Linked DNA regions of Homo sapiens. The protein of the gene in region 1 purifies or fractionates together with the protein of each later gene. This does not show direct contact. Each region holds a gene or a part of one and is shown in the gene's direction. Other genes may lie near its edges.

Region 1 (3,500 bases):
AGATCCATTGTATCATTTTTATATAGGGGTGTTGGCCTCATGTTAGTGTGGCCTTCTGTTTCTGTAAGGATTCTGGATGTTTAATAGACATTTTGGGTTGCATCATGAAGCTTTATTGACTTTTATGGTGAAATTATTACAGGGCAGGTGAATCCGAACATTGGGGTTTAGCCCGAGAAGGTTGGCTCAGGAAAGAATTCAAGAGTGAGCTGGTGGTAGAAAAATCAGCTTTATTGAGGCAGGGTTGTTACAGCTCTGTGACTTCTCCTTCAGAGCAGGGGTACCCCTGGGCAGTGTGTCAAGAGTAGCAGCTCAGGGCCAGTTCTGCAGCCATGTTTATACTACTTTTAATTATGTGCAAATTAAGGGACAAGGTATTCAGAAATTTCTAGAAAACAGAAGGTAACTTCTGGGTCATTGCCATGGAAAGGGATGGTAACTTCTGGGTGTAGCCATGGCAATGGTAAACTGTCATGGTGCTGGTGGGTGTGTCTTACGGAGAGGATCTTTCGTTGCCTCTTCCTTGTTTCTGTCAGTCTTCAATCTGGTCCAGAGTCACATTCCACCTCCTACCTCATTATGAATAATGAAAAGTCAGGCTGATAGGGCTCTGTATTTTCTATCTTGGCTTCTGTCAGAGTTGTCCCATCGAATCCGTCGTATATGTCACAGTTCACTTAACTGTGTTTAGTAAGGGTTTCTATCTTTAAAGCATGTTTGGAAACACTATCCTATGCAATAAATTTTAATTGGCTTCTTCCATATTTTCTTTTTCTTAATAAAGAACAAAGCAGACTTTTATTTCTAGTGAAATGGTTTACAAGATTGGGTCCTGAATAGACCCAAGAAAATCTAAATGTCATTTCTCTGAAGACTGCAAATTGTTGAAAGGCCCATATACTTTAAAAATGTTACCTATGAAAATAAGAAATTATTTAGACAGGTATAAATTACTATATGGTTTTAAGAACAGTCTTGAAAATACGTTTCAAAAACAACAAATTGTTATCGTTTTAGAAATGCAGATGTCATAGATGTTTTTGCAGCACTCTAAAGCAGCAAAAATGCATTGCAGTTGTGCAGTATTAAGGAAGTTGAAACATCGTTGACTGAGCTCACATTAGTTTGTTGGCTAACCACAAAATATGTAAAAAGGTAGAGCTTTTTGCATGTTTTTGATGCTGTGATTTCTTGACAGGAAGGAAAGCAAACTGCAGAAGCACAGCAAACTGCAGAAGCACCTGCAAAGTATTATAGGAAACAGTGAGACAACGATTAGGGCTTGGAGGATGGCCTACCATTAAGAAAAACTGTGTTGCACTTTAAGTTATGTAAAACTATGTTTAGTTGAAAATGTGTATTTTTAAAATATTTTGATTGCACTGTTCATTTTATCATCGCATTCATATTGGTATATAGCTACACTGTACATTTCTTTAATCTTCTATTAATATTTTCTTTTATTTAAAATCTTGTTTCAACAGTTTGAAGGTGATGAAGTTAATTCCATTGTAATGAGAATTTAATATGTTTGAGAGTTGGTATATTCTGTTGGTTATCACAGTCTGGACTCAGGCATACCTAAATCTGAGATTCAGTGTTGCCTTTGTCTTGATGTGTAATCTTAGACAAAATAGCCTCTCTTTGCCTCATCTCTAAAGTTGGAATTGTAGCAGTGATACTTACCTCATAAAGCTGTTGTGAAGATTAAATTATTTAATCAACATATAACCCTTAGCACCATATATGATAGTTTTTATAATATTCCCCAGTGAGATAATGGTGAGAAGAAGTAAGTGGGCATTTATTAATTGCTATATTATATTACTGTTGACGTTTCTTATGATAGAACTTTTTACAATCTCATGGAATATTATTGTCCCACCTTACAAATAAGGAAACTGATGTCTAATACAAAGATACTTTGATTTGCACATGCAAGGTATAGAATCAAGGCAGTTAAACAATTTGAGTTTTGCTTAAATTGCTCCAACCAAAGTTGTCCTTTGGTTGGAGCAAGAGAAGCTGGCCAAGAGAAATTAGATAATTTACCTGGTCTTGGTGAAAGATAATGAAGGCCAATAATAGGAGGGTTGGATAAAACTGGGCAAATTTGTTTGACATTTTAGCGGTAGAATCAACTAAATACTACTGCATGTGATTCAGTGTTATAGGTCAGCACAAGGGAATATTAATGGATCTCTTGGATATTTTGAGTTTGAAGTTCTCATGGGATATCCAGATTTAGATGCTCCGTAGACACCTGGAGCTGTAAAATAAAAAAACGACTTCAGTGGAGGTTCTAATTTTGCAAGTAAAGAGCATTAGAGTTAATAGTTGAATCCAACAAAGAAGTGCCAAATTGAGAAGTAAAGAGACCAGAGAGCAAAATCCTGATGGGCACCAACATTTAAAAGGTAGTTGGAATAATTTGGTGTGGCTAGCAAAATGTTTAAAATATACTAGGATAGTGAAATAGAGCACAGTAAAGGGAACTGCAAGGAATAAGGTAGTCTCTGGCAATATATGTATTCTAGAGACATCAAATATTATTTTTCTTTTTGAGCATTAAATTCAATTCAGCAATTTTGCAATTTTACAAGCAGTTATTTCAAGCATGTGCTCACAAAGCACTTTGCACGAGCTGTACTTCACTATCTGCAAACCTTGCATCTGGTCCTTGCTTATGGAAGCATTTCGTAAAGTTTCAAATGTAATTAAAAGTGATAGAATTTTTTTTTTTTTTTTTTTTTTTTTTTTGCCTGAGACAGGGCCCTGCTTTATCACCTTGCCTGGCGTGCAGTAGTGCCACCTTAGCTCACTGCAGCCTCAACTCTCGGGCTCAAGAGATCTTCCCACCTCTACCTGAGACTAGATGGGACCACAGGCATGCACTACCAAGCCTGGCTAATTTTTTCTTTTTTTTTGTGGAGATGAGGTCTCACCATGTTGGCCAGGCTGGTCTGGAATGCCTGTGCTCAAGCAATCCCACACACCTCAGTCTCCCAAATTACTGGGATCACAGGCATGAACCATTGCACCTGACCATTTTATTTGAGTTGTATTATTTTTCTTTCTACATTTTGGCTCTGCATTCTACATTTCATCATACTATACCATTATTGAGAATGAGAAGAGCTTGAGAAATTTGTTTATATGATATACTACCGTCTTCCAAACACAACTCCTTCTCTTCCCCTTAAGAGTAATTACCACTATTCTGATTTTTATGCAGTCACTTTCTTGCTTTTCTGTATTGCTTTATTACCCAGGTATGCATCCCTAAATATTACAGTTCAGTTTTGCTTTTCTTTTAATAGTATTTTTTGAGTATCTTATAATCTTCAGGTGCCCCAAACATAGCACCTGACGTCCGATACAAAGACATCTCTCTCCCTTTTAAAATTTGTCTATTGAAAAAACCAGGCCAGGTGCGGTGGCTCATCACTTTGGGAGTCCAAGGCAGGCAGATCGCCTGAGGTCAGGAGTTTGAGACTAGC
Region 2 (3,500 bases), on another chromosome or scaffold:
GAGAGCCCAGAAATAGATCCACGTAAATATAATCAACTGATCTTTGACAAAGGAGCAAAGGCAATAAAATAGAGAAAAGATTATTTTCAACAAATGGTGCTGGAACAACTGGACATCCACTTGCAAAAAACTGAATCTAGAAATAGACCTTACATTCTTCACAAAAATTAACTCAAAATGAATCACAGACTTACAGCATAGAACTATAAAACTCCTAGAAGAAAACATAGACAGAAATCTAGATGACCTCAGATTTGGAGTTCACTTTTTAGCTATGATACCAAAGTCACAATTCATGAAAGAAAGAATTGATAAGCTGGACTTCATTAAAATTAAAAAATTCTGTTCTGCAAAAGACACTGTGAAAAGAATTAAAAAATAAGCCATAGACTTGGAGAAAATATTTGCAAGTGACATATCAGATAAAGGACTGTTATCCAAAATACACAAAGAACTCTTACAACTCTGTAATAAGAATACAAACAACCCAATTAAAAAATGGACCAAAGGGCTGGGGACAGTGGCTCACGCCTGCAATCCCAGCACTTTGGGAGGCCGAGGTGGGCGGATCACCTGAGGTCAGGAGTTTGAGACCAGCCTGACCAATATAGCGAAACCCCATCTCTACTACAAATACAAAAATTAGCCGGGTGTGGTGGCAGGTGCCTGTAGTCCCAGCTGCTCGGGAGGCTGAGACAGGAGAATTGCTTGAACCCGGGAGGCGGAGGTTGCAGTGAGCCGAGATCATGCCACTGCTCTCTAGCCTGGGTGACAGTGCAAGACTCCATCTCAAAAAAAAAAAAATGGACCAAACAAAGATCTTAGGAGACATCTCACTGAAGAAGATACAGATGGCAAATAAACATATGAAAAGGTGCTTTAATATATTATTTAATATAATTCTAATTTAATATTTATTCATTTAATATATATTCAAGGAAATGCAAATAAAAATGACAATGAAATACCACTCCACATCTATTAGAATGGCCAAAATTCAGAACACTGACAACATCAAATGCAGGTGAGGATATGGAGCAATATGAACTCTCATTCATTGCTGGTGGGAATGCAAAGTGGTAAGCTACATGGTGGTTTCTTATAATACTAAATATGCTCTTACCATATAATCCAGTAATCATGGTCCACAAGAACCTGCATACAGATATTTATGTCAACTTTATTCATAAACACCAAAACTTGGAAACAACCAAGATGTCATTTGGTAGGTGAATGGATAAACTGTGGTACATGCAGGTAATAGAATATTATTCAGTGCTAAAAAGAAATGAGCTATCAAGCCATGAAAAACATAGAGGAAACTGAAATGCACATAACTATGTGAAAAAAGTCAATATGAAAAGGCTACATACTGTGTGGTTCCAACTGTATGACATTCTGGAAAAGTCAAAACTATGAAGACAGTAAAAAGATCATGGTTACCAGGAATTATGGGGGAGAAAAGCATAAGTAAGTGGAGTAAAGAGGACTTTTAGGTCAGTGAAACTGCTCTGTGCAATACTGTAATGATGGACACATGTCATTGTACATTTACCCAAAACCCACAGAATGTACAACTCAGGAGTAAACCCTAATGTAAACTATGGACTCTGGGTGATAATGATGTGTCAGTATAGGTTCATCATTTATAACAAATGTACCACTCCAATAGGTGGTAATAATGGGGTTATCCAGTGTTGATAATGGGGGTGACTAAGCATGTGCAGGGACAGAACATATACAGGAAATCTCTATCTTCTACTCAATTTTGCTGTGAACCTAAAATAAACTCTATTAAAAAAAAAGTTGGCTAGAAAATTCCAAAAGAAAAAAACAAAACAAGATAAAACAAACCTAAAATAAATATTTAAATGATAGGCCTAAACTCATTGATATTAATAATTACATTAAATGTTAATGAACTAAATGCTGCAATTAAAAAAACAGATTTTAGGCCTGGCACGGTGGCTCACGCCTGTAATCCCAGCACTTTGGGAGGCCTAGGTGGGTGGATCACAAGGTCAGGAGTTCGAGACCAGCCTAGCCAACATGGTGAAACCCCATCTCTACTAAAAATACAAAAATTAGCTGGGTGTGGTGGTGGGAGCCTGTAATCCCAGCTACTCAGGAGGCTGAGGCAGGAGAATCGCTTGAAACTGGAAGGCGGAGGTTGCAGTGAGCCGAGATCATGCCACTGCACTCCAGCCTGGGCAACAAGAGCGAAACTACGTCTCAAAAAAAAAAAAAAAGAAAACCCAGATTTTATCAGAATTGATTTTTGTAAAAAGCAAGGTCCAAACATATGCTGTGTCCAAGACATATGCTTTACATATAAAAACATAGATAGAGTGAAAGTAAATAGCTAGAAAATTATATACCATGCAAACTGTAAACCTAAGAAAGTTGGGGGCCAGATGCAGTGGCTCACGGATGCAATCCTAGCACTTCTGGAGGCCAAGGTGGGAGAGTTGCTTGAGCCCAGGGTTTCAAAACCAGTCTAAACAACACAGTGAGACCCCATTTCTATAGAGAAAAAAAAAAGAGCTGGGCATAGTGCTGCATGCCTGTAGTCCCAGCTACTTGGGAGGCTGAGGAAGGAGGATCGCTTGAGCCCAGGAGTTCAAGGGTACAGTGAACTGTCATTGTGCCACTGTACTTCAGCCTGGGTGACACAGCGAGATGCTGTCTCTAAAAAATAAATGTATAAATAAAAAGAAAGCTGGTGGCCGGGCATGGTGGCTCATGCCTGTAATCCCAGCACTTTGGGAGGCCGAGGCAGGCGGATCACGAGGTCAGGAGATTGAGACCATCCTGGCTAACACGGTGAAACCCCGTCTCTACTAAAAATACAAAAAATTAGCCGGACGTGGCGGCACACGCCTGTAGTCCCAGCTACTCGGGAGGCTGAAGTGGGAGAATGGTGTGAACCCGGGAGGCAGAGCTTGCAGTGAGCGAGATGGCGCCACTGCACTCCAGCCTGGGCGACAGAGTGAGATTTCATCTCAAAACAAAAACAAAAACAAAACAAAACAAAACAAGCAAACAAAAAACTACATAGTTGAAGATTGATAGAAATAGCCAAAAATTAGTAAAAATACAGATCTAAAACATGATCAACTACCTTCAGCTAGTTAATATTTATAGAGTAATACACTCAGTAATTGCTGAATACACATTCTTTTCAAGTGAACTTAGTATGTTCATCAAGCTATTCTGGATCAAAAACTTTCAGGGATCTTTTACCATCATGCACCTTATGTTTTCTATACCATGAATCTTGGGAAAAAGAGCTAAAGGTTATCACAATTTATTACTTGCTTGAATCATGTCAGTATTTTTTGAGGGGCAATTAACTGCTATTTCTATTTATAAAAATACATAATATATTACAAATAAATTAAAATTTATTATACAATATAAATTTTTTTCAGGTGCAAATATATACAGAGCTTCATAATCAGCCCAAGACCACATAGAGCAAACATGAATGATATTTCCCA
Region 3 (3,500 bases), on another chromosome or scaffold:
CAGAGCTTGCAGTGAGCTGAAATCATGCCACTGTGCTCCAGCCTGGGCAACAGAGTGAGACTCCGTCTCAAAAAAAAAAAAAAAAAAAAACCGTGGGCGAGAGCCAGGCACGGTGGCTCACACCTATAATCCCAGCACTTTGGGAGGCTGAGGTGGGAGGATCACTTGAGCCTAGGAGTTCAAGGCCAGTCTGGGCAACATAGTGAGACCTCTTCTCTATAAAACATTTTTTAAGAATTAGCTGGGTGTGGTGGTGCGTGCCTATAGTCCTAGCTACTCGGGAGGCTGAGGCAGGAGATCACATGCCCAGGAGGTCAAGGCTGCAGTGAGACATGATCATGCCTCTTTTTAACTGTACTCCATCCTGGCGGGTAACAGAGCAAGACCCTGTCTCAAAGGAAAAAAAACAGGAGAAAGATGTTGTGAGAGATGGTGTATGGTAGGAGAGCCTCCATAGAGCTCCTTTGACCACATGACAGTGGAGTTATTATTCCTGTACGCTGTCATTACAGAGCGGTGGATCTGAAATGCATTACTTCTGGCAGTATGTTTTTTTCTTTGGAGTTGTTGGAATGCACTTGCGTCTGATTATGCTTTGTGTCCGCAGGCTCGTTTAGAAGTGCACCGGTTTGGTATCACGGGTTATGGAAAAGGAAAGGAGAGAATCCTGGAACAGGAACGTGCCATTATGCTGGGCGCTAAGGTGAGGGGCTGCTGCTACCTTTCATCACTAGACAACATGCAAAAAAAGCAAGAGCAAGGAAAGCTAAGAGCAAGTCAGGGCAAGGGACACTGGAACATTTTTGCAGAATAAAATATGATGGTTTGTTTCTTTGTTCTTTCATTACAGCCTCCTAAAAAGAGTTATGTGAATTACAAGGTTTTACAGGAGCAAATTAAAGAAAAAAAGGCAGCAAAGGAAGAAGAAAAGAGACTGGTAGGTGTGATGGTCTGTCCTTTATTCAACTAGAATGGGAAGATGGATGCTCTTTGCCACAGTGGAATGCCGGAAGCCGCTGCTTGGAGAGCAATGAAGGCACCAGAGTTAAAGGATCCCATGCTCCCCATTTCTTCGAGTTAGCTCTGTTTAGTAATACCAGCCAAGTAATCTGGCGTACTTACATGCAAGATTTGCTTTGAAATAGCAAACTCCTTGTCTTAGTCCGTTTTTGTTGCTGTAAAGGAATGCCTGATGCTGCGTAATTTATAAAGAAAGGAGGCTGATTTGGAGCATGGTTCTGCAGACTGCATGGAAAGCATAGCACTGGCATCTGCTCGGCCTCCGGTGAGCATCTGAAGCTGCTTCCGCTCATGAGGGAAGGCAGAGGGAAGCCCATGTGTACAGAGATCACATGGCAAGAGCGAGACATGAAAGAGCGAAGCAGCAGTGGGGAGAGGTGCCAGGCTCTTTTTAACAAACAGCTCTCATGGGAAGTGGGAAGTAACAGAGGGAGAACTCACTCATTACCATGAGGACAGCACCAAGCCATTCATGAGGGATCCATTGCCATGACCCAAACACCTCCCACTAGGTCCCGTCTCTAATGTTGGGATCAAATTTCAACCTGAGGTTTGGAGGGTCAGCTATCCAAACTATAGCAATCCTGTTCCAATAATGCAGGCTACTTTGATCTTTCTTCTATACTTAGGTTTTTTTTTTTTTTTTTTTTTTTTTTTGCATTTTACGTTGTATAACCTTGTATACAACACAAGGGCCTATGAAAAACCACAAGGGGAATAGATGTTACACTTTCTACCTTTCACCTAAAATGGAAGATTTGAGCTTTCAGTGTAAGACTATTAGTCTTACCTGGAATAGCCATTCACATTCTTTTGTCTTTTTCTTTCTAACTGAGACAGGATCTTGCTGTGTTGCCCAGGCTGGTCTTGAACTCCTGGGATCAAGTGATCCTCCCCCCTTGGCTTCCTGGAGTGCTAGGACTATAGGCATGAGCCACCACGCCAGGCCCAGCCTTTCACATTCTTGAAAGGGTTTTAGGGTAAAACTTTGAGACTGTTATGTTTAATATGCCCACTTGAAAGAAATGTTAAAAATGGTATCTCAATGACTTTTGGTCACAAACCTCTTGCCTTTTGTTTGAATCCCATTATCCACTACTAATATGTATATGATCTTAAATTCTGAAATCAGGCCCAAGAAACAGATATTTTCAAGAAAAAGAAGAGGAAAGGACAGGAGGACAGGTGAGTGATTTTATCAGGTCCTGGGGTTGAACAATCTGGATGAACCTACTGATGAGTTCTGACAAGGACGCCTTGAATGTATGTGGTGTTGCTAGCCCATTAGAGCGCTTCACTGTCTCTCATTTATCCTTGTCAAAGTAGGATTTAGTAAACTGCCCAAGATCAAACAACTGCCTGAGAACTGAATTAGGAAGTTTCTCCAATCTTCCACTTTTCACCGACACTCTAAGTGACTAGTGGAAAAGCTGCAGTTTACATTTCCAAGAAAAGACTTCTAAGAGTGCTGCTACAGCAGCGTAGTCTGGGTCTGTATAGCCTGCTCTTTGACATACCACGTAAGATAGAGCACCGTAATTATGAATAAGGGATGTTGACTTTGTTGCTTTATACTTGTTTGTTAGCTTTTGTTCAAATGCCTTTTTCTCTGTCTTTGAGTTACTGTTTCAGAATGGACTCTTTTTGTCTTAGCCTGTTTTCTTGGGCTCCTAGTGCACTTGTACATGCTGTAAAATGGTCATTTGTTCTGGCCACCGATCTGTATCTGTTGAATGCCTCTTTGTGCCAGGCATGTGGGTGTCTTAGGTATTGGTGTACAGCTGTAATCACACTAAAGATATCCCTGCCCTTGAGGAGCTTCATTGTAGGGAGAGAAACACCCCAAAACATACAAATGGATAAGTAAGATGATATCAGGTACTGGCAAGTATTGTAGAGAGGCTGAAAGAGAGCATTGTGAAGGAAAACCACAGGGAGAAGGTGAGCTGGGAAATTAGTCTGAGGAGGTGACATCGGAGCTGAGAACTGAACAAAGAAGAGGGGCAGCCTGGAAAGAGCTGGTAGCAGAACATTCCTTGCAGAAGAAACCAGTGCAAGGGCCCTGAGGCAGGAAGGCAGTAGCATGTTTCAGGGACCACAGGAAGGCGTATGGGGTGGGGGGTGTGCATGGCAGGCGACCAGGAGTTTGCAGGCCAGACTGCAGTGGCCTGGTTGGTGGTACTGTGATGCTTGTTGGTAAGCTTGACTATTTATAGTACCTTTCTCTTACTTTAAATGTAGGAAATCCAAAAAGAAGTCCGCTCCCAGTATTTTGTCAAATGGACGGATTGGACAGGTTGGAAAATTCAAAAATGGAACACTGATTCTGAGCCCAGTTGATATCAAGAAAATAAATTCTTCCAGAGTGGCCAAATGAAGTACTTTGTCAAATAAAACGAGGATGGGAACAACTGAGTCAACTGCAGCGGCCCTGGACCCTGTGCGACTCTAGATAGATCGTTCTTAACACGCATTTCACA
Region 4 (3,500 bases), about 44 Mb from region 1:
TTTCTGTGTTTATTCTCTGCTATTCAGTGTTAAATTACTCCTTACAGCACAGTGGGTAAGTATTATTATCCTCCTTTTACAGATGCTAAAACTGAGGCAAAGATAAGCTTTGTAAATTGTCGTAGGTTACGCATAGTCATTAAACACAGCTATGATTTGAATGAAGGGCTCTGATCCCAAAAGCGATAATCTTAACCACTTTGCTAGCCTCCAGTTGAATTTTTAATCCTGGTTCAGCTGCTAAATGTGTGCAAAAGCTCTGGGTATCATGTTTCTCATCTATAACATATAGGAGTTTGATGGATTATATTATCTGTAAGGTCCCTCCTACCTCAAAAATCCTCTGACTTTAGTTGACTCCTAAGTATTATCTGAATATAGCAGTTCTGGAGTGCCAGAAAACCCTCATCAATTTTGATGTGTTTTATGTAAGCTTTTATATGTGTTCACGTCTTCCACATTGGTGGACACACAATCATGTTTTTGCAATAGGAAGAATAGAGTTAAAAAAATCACAGCCATGCTTTTTTTTTTTTTTTTACCAGCTATGACACTAATAAGTCACTGAACCTTTGTGAGCTTATGTTTTCATATGTAAAATGGATCCATAGGATTGCTGTGAGCGTTAAGTGGGTTGACTTATAAAGCCTCAAACGTGTTGTCTGATACACAATTGCTGATAAATAAATATTGATTCTTTTTCTTGCTCAGTCTTGCAAGGATAAAAGATTAGTGGATATGAAAAATGCTTTATAAATTAGACAAAGGTGAAGAATATTTTCACTTACAGTCTACTAGGAGAGAGAAAGTTATATAAACAAATAATTATATGTAGGGCAATTTACATACATCATTGAACACAAAACATGGGAATGCAAAGAAAAGAGATTTTTTTTTTTCCAGGAGGGCAGATGAGGAAAGACCTCATAAAAAAGGTAATATTGAGTTTGTGCCATATAGGATGGAAAGGATTTTGGCAGGGGAACAAGAGGGACAAGTGTTCTACTGGAAGATGCAAAGGTGTCAGAAAACAGAAATAGTACCTAGGTCACTTTGGCTATGTAAGATGGATGAAGGCTGGTAATAAAGCTGAGGTAAAAAGCTGAGTTTAGGACAAGCTGTAGATAACTGTGGGCAAGTTAGAGATGTTAGGCTTTTAACGATAAGCAATAATCTGTGTGTATAACTAGGATGGGGTGGAGGATGGAGTTGGCATTTGTTTTCTTTGTTATGGAAAAACGCCCATTTGTTACAGAAACATTAGAGTGTACAAATATGCCAAAAAGGAAAGAGAAAGGAAGAGTGGCCCATGACCCCACCACTCAGAAATAACTTATGATTTTTCTCTGTATTACAGATTTGCATATATGTGCTTTTAAAATAAAAATGAAATAATACTGTCTATATTGTCTTGTGACCTGCTTTTTTCAATGTGCTATACCATGAATTTTTCCATGTCAATAAATTTGCTTCTATAAAATAATACTTAGGGCCTGTATGCTATTCAATTTTATGAATATGTTATAACTTTTAAACTGACTTCTTTCTGTTAAGTAATAGTACAATAAAGGTTTTTATAGTAAAATATTTAGACATATTCGTATCTATTTTCTTATTACAATTTGTAGAAGGAGAAATGGTCACCCACAGGATATGAACACATATAATACTTACATGTATTGCCATATTAATCAAATTTTTAATTGAAACTTGGTGCAAAATTCATAAGGTATGAAAGGGTATATAATGAGGCGTTAGCCTCCCTCTCACCTCGTTGTCCTCCTGACTCACAGCTAGCCCTTATAGCACCTTGTATGATTAGAAAAGGGCACCCCCTTCTGGAGGATCCATAACTCTTGGATATACACTGTGTAACTGATGCTACTTTTGTAAGGATTGGAAAAAGGCATCTTTTTCTCTATGGCAACAGCCCTGCAGGGACACATGGCTGGGCCAACAAAGTATGGGTTGGATTCAGCCCCTACTGACCTCCCTAGATTGAGTACTTTTATGACAGGTACTGCACCTGGCCTTTTTGACTATTTACTTTCTAAAAGCCAACACTAAAGCCAAATGCAGACTTTGTTAAAATACAGAAGACAAGATTGGCCGGCGCAGTGACTCATGCCTGTAATCCCAGCACTTTGGGAGGCCAATGCGGGCGGATCTCTTGAGACAAGGAGTCCGAGACCAGCCTGACCTACATGGTAAAACCCCATCTCTACCAAAAAAATACAAAAATTAGCTGGGTGTGGTCGTGGGCACATGTAATCCCAGCTACTCCTGGAGTCTAAGGCAAGAGAATCACTTGAACCCCGGGTGGTGGATGTTGCAGTGAACCGAGATCATGTCACCGCACTCCAACCTGGGTGACAGAGTGAAGGATTCTCTCTCAAAAAAAATACAGAGGACAAGGTCAAACTTTAGTGCATCCCTTGAAATACATACATCCCATATAAAAAGTTTTAACAACTATAAAAGTTCAAAACGAGACAATGTCATTTTGACTAATTAGGCAATGCAGTATAATGTAAACAACTGAATTCAGAGAGGACCTGGGGTTGAGCTTAAACTCATGAACATATAATGATAGCCTTGAAGAAGTTACTTAAATTCCCTGAGCCACAATTTCTTCATCTGTAAAGTAATACTATCAACTTTACTAGGATTAAATGTAATACTGTGTGTAGGTACACAAGCATCAGAAAAAAATTATTAAGGTCTCTAGTTTTGTTTTGTTTTTAATAAACTCACTGTTTTAAATTAGGGTCTGTGGCTCTAACTATGAAGTCAAACAGACTTGGATTTGAATCCCAACTCTGTCACAGTTGTGTGACAGTCACAGTTGTGTGACAGTGTGAAAGTTACTTTTCCACTGTTTCATTATTTGTAAAATGGGAATGATGATGTCTTCATAGGCCTTTTGTGAAGATTAAATAAAATAATGCATGTATAGAGTTTAATATGGTGCCTGGTGTAGTAAGGCACTTTATTTGTTCAAATTCTCCAAAAAGCAGATGCCAAGAGGAGGTAAGATGTACAAGATGTTTATTGGGGAGACTGCTTGTGAAGAATGAAGGAGAGTGAGAGTAGGAAAGAAATGCCTTCAGGCCTCAATGCACGTCTGACAGCCTAAAAAGAAGAGAAGGAAGGAAGAAAGAAGAGTTGAGTAAGAATATCAAAGTGCTACACTCTTCTAAGAAAGCTTCAATTAGGCCAGTGCAGAGTCCAAAAGCCAAAGTCATGTATTAGAGGAATCCCATGTTGCCACGGTATTCAATGTTAGGTATTAGTAAAAATGATCAACAGTTGTCATCTGCTAAAACTTACAAATACATTTGAATTTCAAATCTTGAATTTTACTCCCTGTGCCACCCCCTCCTGCCCTCAAGAAAAGTATAATCCCTACTGCCAGACATTGATACTAACATTTGGGTCATATGTTCTTACACTATCTTCTTATATTTTATAATACGGTTTTGTTAGCCAGAACAGTTAGG
Region 5 (3,500 bases), on another chromosome or scaffold:
CACACCTTGCAGAAGGTGAGGTGGCTGACAGTGCGGAGAGGAGCAGCCTAGGGAGGCAACATGAGGGGAACATGACTGCATTCTCTCTCCTGTGAAAAGGGTCCAGCCTCGGCACTCCAGATCATCCTGGACCTGATAGACTGGCCGGTTCTAAGGTCCTTCCTGGTGGTCACGGCTATGGCAGCAACTGGGTTGACCAGACACCCAGCCAGGCCAGCCCAACCCAAGACTACAGCCCAGAGCCTCGGAACTAGGGCCCTCTAAACTAGACTCAATATGAGAAGCATTGGTTTGGAAATGGCCCCGGGGAACAAGGATCCAACTGCTGCCCCTGCTAGACAGGCAAGAGACTTGAGTTCCAGAACCAGACCTACTTTCAGCTTGCTGTGTGACCTTAGGCAGATTGCTTTCCATCTCTGGGTCTTGCCTTCTGTATCTATGAAAGACGGTTGGTGGACTAGCTCAGAGGTGATCAGATTGTGCTCTGTGGAGGCTGACAGAGCTGTCTTAGGGCTGCTGGGGAGGATGAGAAGTGGCTGAGCTGAGCCTGGGCACCCAGCTTCCATCTCTGCTTCCTTGGGCATCTCAAGGGAAAGGTGCTATTAGCTCCTTCACACTTTACTCCCCCTCCTTTCCCTTCCCTCCTCATGCTGTCCAAGGAGAGAGCTGCCTGAGGCGCACGGAGGAGTTCTCCTGACCCAGCAGAGGGGAGGAATGTGAGGCTCTGGGCAGGAGGCAGGCTGCCATCTGCCAGAGAGCCGTGTTTTTGAAAAAATCAGAATCAAGCCTGGGAGGCAGCAGAGTGAAATGATGGAAAGAGGAGTCCCAGCTCCACTCCTTTCTCTCTGGGTGACCTTGAGCAAGAATATCTTCACCTTTATGAGCCTCAGTCTGCTCATCTGAGAGCTGGGGATAAGAACACCTACCATGATGGTCTGTGGCAAAGATTAAAAAACACAGTGCATTTAAAGGACTTAGCAGGTTGCTAGGCAAAGGCTCAGTGAGTGTAGGCAGTCATTTTTAGAAACTTTTAGACTGTTGGCCATATTCTGCAAATATGCGAATTCTCTCCACACACAACAGTCTCAGGTGTTGCCAGTGCAGATGCTGCCCCTGGGGCAGAAAAGCAAAGCTGCGGCTGCAGACCCCTGGGCCCCCTTGGCTGGTCTAGCTCTGGCAGGAGACTCATCACCTGTGTGTCCTGCCCCTCACCCGCACCTAAGTTTAACTTCATGCACACCCCACCCTGTTCTAGGCCAAGGATGAGCTGAACGAGAGAGAGGAGACCCGGGAGGAGGCAGTGCGAGAGCTGCAGGAGATGGTGCAGGCGCAGGCGGCCTCGGGGGAGGAGCTGGCGGTGGCCGTGGCGGAGAGGGTGCAAGAGAAGGACAGCGGCTTCTTCCTGCGCTTCATCCGCGCACGGAAGTTCAACGTGGGCCGTGCCTATGAGCTGCTCAGAGGTGAGGCCAGTGCTTGGAGGGACGGCCCTGGGAAGACGGGAGGCCATGAGGATGCTATCCGCTCTCATCCTGGCACTGAACAGGCCTGCTTCCATACTGTGGGCAAGTCAGTTTCTCTGAGCCTCCACATCCTTACCTGTAAAATGGGTCAGCTCTGATAATGAGCGAACGAATGAATGAATGAAGTGTGTCAGGAGCAGATTTCTGGAGGTCTGAGTCCTCTCAACTCTCTCCCAGTCTTGGGATTCAATGAGTAAAACTTGGGTACCCCATTTGGGTGACGAGGGGAGGAATTTCCCCTCCAGACCCCCACCATGAGAACCTAAGCTTTGGCTCTGGAATGCTGCAGGAAGGTGGATAGTGCCTCTCTCAGGGCAGTTACCTAAGCCTCATGTGCAGTGGAACTGAAGATGGTGTCAGACCTGGGAATGAACCCCGGGGACAGAACCGCTCTGGCACTGCTGGCTGGATGAAGACAGGATGCCTCAAGAAATCATCGGCCGGTTGCGGTGGCTCACGCCTGTAATCCCAGCACTTTGCGAGGCCAAGGCGGGCAGATCATCTGAAGTCGGGGGTTTGAGACCAGCCTGACCAACGTGGAGAAACCCCATCTCTACTAAAAATACAAAACTAGCCGGGCGTGGTGGCGCATGCCTGTAATCTCAGCTACTGGGGAGGCTGAAGCAGGAGAATCGCTTGAACGCAGGAGGCAGAGGTTGCGGTGAGCTGAGATCGTGCCATTGCACTCCAGCCTGGGCAACAAGAGCAAAACTCTATCTCAAAAAAGAAAGAAAGAAAAAAAAAAAGGGGGTGGTTCCCTCAAGAAATCGAATCTTGGGCACTGGTGGACGGAAATGGGGTCTGAGTGGGCCCTCTGCAGGCTAATGATTTTCCTTTTCCTACTTCTTCCTTCTCCAAATGGTAATTCAGGGCCATGCTGTGCCAAGAACTGTTTTAGGCCAAGGGATGCAGTGGAGACAAAACAGACAAGTTCCCTGCCCTGGTGGAACTCATATTCTAATGGTGGAAACAATACATCCAATAAATAAAGTAAAATTATATAGGGTTAAATAATGGTAAGGAATAAGGAAAGAAATTAAGGAGGTGGATATAAAGTCTTGAGGGGCTGAAGTTTTAGATAAAGTGGCCAGGGAAGTCCCAGTGCAAAGGGAATTTTGAAGAAAAACCCGAAGGAAATGAGATATCTGTGGGGAAGAGCAGCCAGGGCAGAGGCAACAGCAAAGACAAAGGCCAGGGGTTGGGAGGTGCCCAGAGTGTTCCAGAGCAGTGAGCAAGTTGATGTGGCAGTCTCTTGGCAGAGGTGCCCAGGTCCTCTAGGGGCTCAAATTTGGTGGTGCAGGCCACAGAGGTGGGGAACTGCTCAGGATGGGTAAGGATGGTGTTTGTGGACCGTAGAGGTGCTGCTGGAATCAGGAGCTCTGTGTCCTGCTTGGGGTTTGGATTTTACTTGGGAGCTTCTCCTCAGCCCTGTGCACACCTCACCACTCAGCTTATCCTGTGCCCAGCTGAAAAATCTGTGTCTTGTCCCCATGGGGAAGAAAATAACAAGTAATGATTATCCTCATATTTAAGACTATGCCTCATGTTTGCCCAAGCTTATGATGATGTTTACACCTTGAATCTCATTTGATTGCCACAACAATTTGGTGAGATAGGCCACTATCTAGACTATCTAGAATAGATAGGTCAATATCGAGATCCCATTTTTTGGAGAGGAAACATGGGGCTCGGATAGGTTGAGTAGCCAGCTCGGTCACACATAGGACCTGGCAGGAGGTCAGGTCTCTGAGTCCCACTAGGAGGGATGGGGTAGGGATGGGATGGCTCCCTGAGGGGGTTCCTCTGCTCTCCTTCCTCCAGGCTATGTGAATTTCCGGCTGCAGTACCCTGAGCTCTTTGACAGCCTGTCCCCAGAGGCTGTCCGCTGCACCATTGAAGCTGGCTACCCTGGTGTCCTCTCTAGTCGGGACAAGTATGGCCGAGTGGTCATGCTCTTCAACATTGAGAACTGGCAAAGTC
Region 6 (3,500 bases), on another chromosome or scaffold:
AGAGAATAAGGAAAGAATGTTGAAGTTGGAAAGCTACTGGATTGAGGCCCAAACATTATGCCACACAGTGAATGAGCATCTCAAAGAGACTCAAAGCCAGTATCAGGCCTTGGAAAAGAAATACAACAAGGCAAAGAAGTTGATCAAGGATTTTCAACAAAAGTAAGCCGCTTCTAATAACTAAAGAATAGTTATGTTTGTCTAAAGAAGGTTTATGTCCAATAATTTTGTAATATCTAGTGGAACAGAAAAGATGACCTTAGAGATATCTTTCCTATCCAGGAGCATAGTTACAGCATAAATACACATTAAGTTTTGGAAGTCACTTCTATCACTTTTTCATGAGATTATGTTTTGTATATTTTATAGTTTTTGGCTGCCAGGGCCTCTTTGCTATTTTTGATAATTAATCGTTGTTTATAACTGTTAAAACATCTGAATTTCTTTATTCTTTTTGAAACACCTCTATGATTTAGAAACAAGAAGCCCAGCGGAAAGTCATGTAGAATGACTGACTATTGGATGTGGAGCACGCAAGCCACAGCTGGGGCCTGAATCAGGCTGCTCCTCTCTATTCTTAGATCAGTAACTACAGAATTTCCCACTACAGACAGTGCACATATCGACTAGCAAGGCCCCCTGCCCTGCCACTCTGCATTTCTCAGCTGTTGAGAGAATCAGGAGGGCCTCCTTTCACTGCAGGGAGAGAGACCATTACCACATTCTGCTTTTGATTTTCAACAGCTGTTTCTGAGCTACTGCTCCTTTGCTTCCATCTCTTGGATCTCGGTGTAATGTCACGGAGACTGACCACGGAGATTTTTACTAGATTTTTTTCATCAGTTACTTCTGGCTAGTTAGAACAAATAAGTAGTACCAGTACCTTTTCTGGTCTTCCATGCCAAGCCTCAGAAGCTAAGCATATATGTAAGATTAACCATATTTCTTTTATTTCCTATTATGTGGAAGAATGTTTTTAATATTTAAAAGAGTTTTGCTATCAAAAGTTTCTTGTTAAAAGGGGAGTAATTATTCTCTGTGACTATAAATTCAATACATCACTGTTTTAACTATTTGCCAAACTCTTTTTCATGAAATAATTTTATAGTAAATTTTGCTAAATTTGCATATTCTATTCCAGGTTTTCAAAATGGAACTGTTTCTCTTCTCCCCATATTATCCTTAGGTCTATAAGTGAGTGCCCCTCTCGATGTTTCTGACCCACCCAGCCCCCTCTTCACTGTTATTCATAGAAATCTTACAATTATCTTTTTCGAACTCTTATCTAGTTACATCAGTTTACTATACTATGCTTATGACATTGGAAAAATGGAATTATTTCTACCTGACAAGTAATTATCTCCACTAAATTACCCAATGTGGGTCATTAGTGCAGTCTTTCCTATCTAAATATGTATGGGTGTTCTAGAATCAGGAGCTACGAAAGAAAATTATAGTAAGCAGAATCGAATCATTTTTCTTTGCCTTGTGACCCATTAAAGATGTTTTAGTTTCTTTCATTACTATACTTTTTCCTCTAACTGATTGAATGTTGTCCATTTAAATAACTGTTCAGTTGCTTATCCTACTATGCAGTTTATTGTTTCAGATAAGAACTTTCATTTATTGAGTGTATGATATAATCAGAACTATTATTTTCTTCTTAAGAGAGCTTGATTTCATCAAAAGACAGGAAGCAGAAAGAAAGAAAATAGAAGATTTGGAAAAAGCTCATCTTGTGGAAGTGCAAGGCCTCCAAGTGCGGGTAAGTTGTGTTCCCTAAGACACTAAATAATAAGATGGTTTTGCTGTACTTGGAGGGGAGCGCTAGTTTAGAGTTTTATAAATGGATTTGTTTTTCCTAGATTAGAGATTTGGAAGCTGAGGTATTCAGGCTACTGAAGCAAAATGGGACTCAAGTTAACAATAATAACAACATCTTTGAGAGAAGAACATCTCTTGGTGAAGTCTCTAAAGGGGATACCATGGAGAACTTGGATGGCAAGCAGACATCTTGCCAAGATGGCCTAAGTCAAGGTTTGTTTAACCCAACCACAAAAATCATTTTTGATGACTGTGTAATTTGGCCTTTTATTTTTCTTTTTCTGACCCAGAGATTTAAAAGTTGGAAATACCTTCCTACTATGGGAAAGAAGAAAAGGCTTATCAAAATAGGAGTCAATCATTTTAGCTCTCGTCTTATCAAAAATAAATACTTTAATATGTAGCATTAACAAATCACAACTAAAGATAAGCCAAATACTATTTTAAAATCATCATACAATTGACAGATTTAATAAACTGCCTTACAAATTGTAGTTCATCCTATCTAGGATGAACTACACTACTTATGTGTTAATGACTAAGGTTTAGATTTTTTTTTTTTTTTTTTTTTTGAGAGTCTCACTCTGTCATCCAGGCTGGAGTACAGTGGTGCAATCTCAGCTCACTACAACCTTCGCCTCCCAGGTTCAAGCGATTCTCATGCCTCAGCCTCCCCAGTAGCTGTGACTATAGGCATGTGCTACCACGTCTGGCTAATTTTTGTATTTTTAGTAGAGGTGGGCTTTTGCCTTGTTGGCCAGGCTGGTCTCGAACTCCTGACCTCAGGTGATCCACCTGCCTTGGCTTCCTAGAGTGCTAGGATTACAGGCATGAGCCACCGCGCCCAGCCAAGCTTTAGAATGTTTAAGTCACTAGAATAAAGATCTTTTTCATAATATCAGAAGGCAGACTGCTGCTTTCAGCACTTGAGATTCATGTAGTTAACGAAGTCCATATAGTTTTGTGCTTTTACCATGGTGTACTGTGTATACTTCTTAGGTCTTTCATGTCAAAGACCAAGTAAGACCAAAACACTGGAAACATTTGGTATTATAAATGATTATCTTCATTCATACACCAACCATAAATAAATTACTTATGTTCTTACACACACAACATTCTTAGATTGCACGTGTATGAACATGAATGACTGTTTTAATATCTGTGGTATATTTGCAAATTAGAAAACACATAATAATTATAAAGATAAATACACAGGAATGTGTGGCTTCATCTTTTTAAATATATACATAGTAGTCCCTGGAAAATGAAAATAAAAGAATGTGGTGCAGCAGGGTTGTCATGACAGGACCGACAACTCAGAGGCAACACTTTGACGTGCAGTAAAACCCTGTTATAATGGGCTTTTTAGTTTTTTCGTGATCTTTCTCACATATTAAACTGTCTCCAGTGAAGTTTTCCTGATAAGCAAGTGTTTATATCCTATCATGAACTTTTAGAACTAAGCTCTTAGCCATTAAAAATGGAAAGGATTAGAAATCTTCATTTAAAATTAAAATGATATCTAGAGATTTGAATCCATTCACTGGGTTTATATCCTTCTAATGGGTTTTCCCTAAATAGGATGTAATTTATAAATAGTGCCTCTTAGGCAGCTGAAAGAGGAGGATTTAGCATTAGCATTACGACTAAGTGAGGAGCTGTGTGACTTCAGG
Region 7 (3,500 bases), on another chromosome or scaffold:
TTTTCTTATAATGTTACCATCAGGCTTGGGTATCAAATGAGTTGGGGAGTGTCTTTTCTTCATTTTATAAAAGTTTGGTATCATTATTTTCTTAAATGAGAGGATTCACCAGTACAATTATCTGGGCCTGGAATTTTCTGTGTGGAGACATCTTTGGCATTACATTTGATTTTTTAAATAGGTATTTCAGTACTCACATTTTCTGTTTTGCCAGTTTGGTAATTGTGTCTATCAAGAAGTTTGTCCATTTCATCTGATATGTTGAGTTTATAAACAGAGTTGTTCACGATAGTCCCTCATTCTTTTGATGACTAGGATTATCATGACATTTCATTTTTATTTCTAACATATATAATTTGTGTTTTGTGTCTTTCGTGCTAAATCTTGATAGGCATTGCTTAGTTTTATTAAACGTTTTTAAGAACCACTTCGGCTTTGTCATATGTTGGTGCAAAAGTAATTGCAGTTTTGGCCATTACTTTCAATGACAAAAACCGCAATCATTTTGCACCAACCTAATAATTTTCTCTATTGTTTGTTTAATTGATTTTCAGTATTATTTCAGTATTATTCAGTATTATTTCTTTTACTTTCTTTTTTTTTTTTTGAGACAGAGTCTCGTTCTATCGCCCAGGCTGGAGTGCAGTGGTGCAATCCCAGCTCACTGCAAGCTCTGCCTCCCAGGTTCACTCCATTCTCCTGCTTCAGCCTCCCGAGTAGCTGGGACTACAGGCACCCACCACCATGCCTGGCTAATTTTTGTATTTTTAGTAGAGACGGGGTTTCACCGCGTTAGCCAGGATGGTCTCGATCTCCTGACATCGTGATCCACCCACCTCGGCCTCCCAAGGTGTTGGGATTACAGGCGTGAGCCACGGCGCCTGGCCTCTTTTACTTTCTTTTGGTTTAATTTGCTTATCTTTAGATTTGAAAATTTTCTCATTCATTTTTAAGATTTTCGTGATTTCTGCTAAACCTGTTGAAAGGTGTAAACTTTCTTCTTTGTACTGCTTTAGTGGCCCCGATTTTTTGATGCCTTTTATTTTTATTATCATTTCTTTAAATATATATTTTAACTTCCCTTGTGATCTCCTGTTTTAAAAATTTATTTTTTTAGTTGAAAAATAATAATTGTACATGGGGTACATAGTGATTTTTCGATACATATAATATATAGTGATCATTGTGATCTCTTTTTTGACCAGTTGGTTATTTTATGGTGATTTATTTTATTTTCAAATACTTGTTTTTTCTCTAGATATACTTTTGATGTTAATTATAAGTTAATTTTGTTGTAGTCTAGAGAATGTATCTTACATGATTTCAAATTTTTAAAAATTATTATTATTATTTCTAAATGGCCCAGCTTTAGTGTATCTTGTGAAAGTCTCATTTGCATCTGCAAAGTAGATGTGTTCTCCAGGTGTTGAATATAATGTTGTATAATTTAAGTTTGGTCAACATGGTTGGTAATATCATTCAGATCTTCTTTATCCTTACTGATTTTTCATCCAATTTGTTTACCCGTTACCAACTTAGGGGTATTAAAATATCCAGTTATGTTTGTGGGTTTGTTTATACTTCTCTTTAGTTCTGTCAGTATTTTATAACTTTGTTATCAGGCACATACACATTTATTATTATTATGTTTTGAGCATTATGAAACGTCTCTACCTCTGGTAATATTCCTTTCCTTATCTTATAGATTGTTTTGTGTAATACTTCAGCTTTCTTATGACAAGTGTTTCCATGGTATATGCTTTCTATCTTTTTTCTTTCAAACTAATTCTGTCTTTTCATGTAAGTGAATCTCTTACAATAAGAGTTTGGTGTCACTTTTTTATTAAGTCTGACAATCTATGCCTTTTAATGTAGTGTTTAGTCCATTTATGAATGTTTTGTCCATTTAATGTAAATACTGCTATGATTGGATTTAGGAGCAATTTGTTGCTCTTTATTTTCTATTTATCTGTTTTTTAAAATTATTGTTTTTATTGTTGTTTCTCTGTTACTCCTTTCTTGCCTTTTTTTGAGGAGATAATCATGAATCTTTTAGTTTTTTATTATTATTGACCTTTTATCTATATTTGTTTGCATTGTATTTCTCAGAGTTGATCAGTGGATTACAGAATATATCTGAAAATTATCACAATCTATTTAGAATTGATATTGTATTGTTTCACATTTGATCTAGAAACCTTGGAATAATATAGTTCCATATACTCCCTCATCCATTGTGCTATTGTCATATATTATATCTACATATCCTATAATCCCCACAATAGAGTTATAACTTTTTCTTAAAGAGCCCTTTCAGTTTTTTGTATTAGACTTTTAAAAAATTAAAGAAGGCTAGAATAAATATATATTATATATCTACTGTATTATATATTGTATATATTATAGATAACATTCTATTGCTAAATATAGATAATATATATTTGTAGACAATATCTATATATAGGTAATATATATTCTATTCTTATATATTATATAGATATATAACATCTATATAATCTATTTATAGATATTACATATCTATAAATACATATACAATTTCTAGGGATCTTCATTTCTTCCTGTAGATTCAGATTACCATTTTGTGTCCTGTCAGTCTTACAAACTTATTTTACATTTCTTGTAATACAGGTTTACTAGTGATGGATTTTTCTCAGTCTTTGCTTTTCTAAAAGTATTTGTCTCATCTTTGTTTTCAAATGGTGGTTGATGTGATTGTATTCTTCTTGTCTAACAGTTGCCTTCTTCTACCTCCAGCTCTTTATAGGTTTCCATTTTTATTGGCCTCTCTTGTAATCATTCATTTCATTGTCCTCTCTATATAATGTGTTGATTTTGTCTGAATGCTGTCAGGAATTTTACTCAAGATTGTGGTTTTTATCTTTTGATTACAGCAATTTGACTGCATGGTGCCTGGGTCTAGCTTTCTTTATGTTTATTCTGCTTGACGTTTGTTGAGCTTTCCAAACCTATAAGCTGATACTGTCTGTGAAATGGGAAGATTGTTATTTCCCACCCTATTTTTCATCCTCTCCTTTTGGTACTGTAGTTACACATGCATTGAAATTTGTGCTATATCTCACTGATCTCTGAGATTCTGTTTATATTTCTTAAATCTTTTTTCCTCTTTGTTTTTAAGATTGAATAACTTGTATTACTTAGTCTTCACGTTTACAGATTGTGGTCCGGAGAATGTATCTTTTATGATTTCAAATTGTATTAAATTATTTTGTTTTGTTTTAATGGCCCAGCAAAAGGGTATGTCGTGAGAGTTCCATTTGCAGTTGCAAAGTATGTGTGTTTTCCAGGTGAATTTTTTATTTCACTTATTGTGGTGTTCAACTTCAGATTTTCTATTGGTATTTTTTCTGTTTTTTAATATAAAATCCCCCATCTTTTCAGCCATCATGCATATATTTTCCCCAAAGTGCTTGAACATATTTATATTAGCTATTTTAAAGTCCTTGTCTGCTAACTCTAAA

What was found.
Region 2: the proteins of EMB (region 1) and NEXN purify together in Homo sapiens (affinity purification with mass spectrometry; one large-scale study listed by BioGRID and IntAct). This does not show direct contact.
Region 3: the proteins of EMB (region 1) and FSAF1 purify together in Homo sapiens (affinity purification with mass spectrometry; one large-scale study listed by BioGRID and IntAct). This does not show direct contact.
Region 4: the proteins of EMB (region 1) and KIAA0825 purify together in Homo sapiens (affinity purification with mass spectrometry; one large-scale study listed by BioGRID and IntAct). This does not show direct contact.
Region 5: the proteins of EMB (region 1) and RLBP1 purify together in Homo sapiens (affinity purification with mass spectrometry; one large-scale study listed by BioGRID and IntAct). This does not show direct contact.
Region 6: the proteins of EMB (region 1) and PPP1R9A purify together in Homo sapiens (affinity purification with mass spectrometry; one large-scale study listed by BioGRID and IntAct). This does not show direct contact.
Region 7: the proteins of EMB (region 1) and MAP9 purify together in Homo sapiens (affinity purification with mass spectrometry; one large-scale study listed by BioGRID and IntAct). This does not show direct contact.

The regions. Positions count from the first base shown.
Region 1 is NC_000005.10:50,413,789-50,417,288, reverse strand, and holds part of EMB (embigin precursor), read left to right. Parts: intron 1-3,500. UniProt on the Homo sapiens protein: Plays a role in the outgrowth of motoneurons and in the formation of neuromuscular junctions.
Region 2 is NC_000001.11:77,912,624-77,916,123, forward strand, and holds part of NEXN (nexilin), read left to right. Parts: intron 1-3,431; 5' UTR 3,432-3,483; coding exon 3,484-3,500. UniProt on the Homo sapiens protein: Involved in regulating cell migration through association with the actin cytoskeleton. Has an essential role in the maintenance of Z line and sarcomere integrity.
Region 3 is NC_000001.11:231,224,176-231,227,675, reverse strand, and holds part of FSAF1 (40S small subunit processome assembly factor 1), read left to right. Parts: intron 1-607; coding exon 608-703; intron 704-850; coding exon 851-937; intron 938-2,152; coding exon 2,153-2,205; intron 2,206-3,261; coding exon 3,262-3,397; 3' UTR 3,398-3,500.
Region 4 is NC_000005.10:94,612,105-94,615,604, reverse strand, and holds part of KIAA0825 (uncharacterized protein KIAA0825), read left to right. Parts: intron 1-3,500.
Region 5 is NC_000015.10:89,215,080-89,218,579, reverse strand, and holds part of RLBP1 (retinaldehyde-binding protein 1), read left to right. Parts: coding exon 1-15; intron 16-1,255; coding exon 1,256-1,460; intron 1,461-3,341; coding exon 3,342-3,500. UniProt on the Homo sapiens protein: Soluble retinoid carrier essential the proper function of both rod and cone photoreceptors.
Region 6 is NC_000007.14:95,250,094-95,253,593, forward strand, and holds part of PPP1R9A (neurabin-1), read left to right. Parts: coding exon 1-162; intron 163-1,668; coding exon 1,669-1,765; intron 1,766-1,865; coding exon 1,866-2,037; intron 2,038-3,500. UniProt on the Homo sapiens protein: Binds to actin filaments (F-actin) and shows cross-linking activity. Binds along the sides of the F-actin. May be involved in neurite formation. Inhibits protein phosphatase 1-alpha activity.
Region 7 is NC_000004.12:155,363,466-155,366,965, reverse strand, and holds part of MAP9 (microtubule-associated protein 9), read left to right. Parts: intron 1-3,500. UniProt on the Homo sapiens protein: Involved in organization of the bipolar mitotic spindle. Required for bipolar spindle assembly, mitosis progression and cytokinesis. May act by stabilizing interphase microtubules.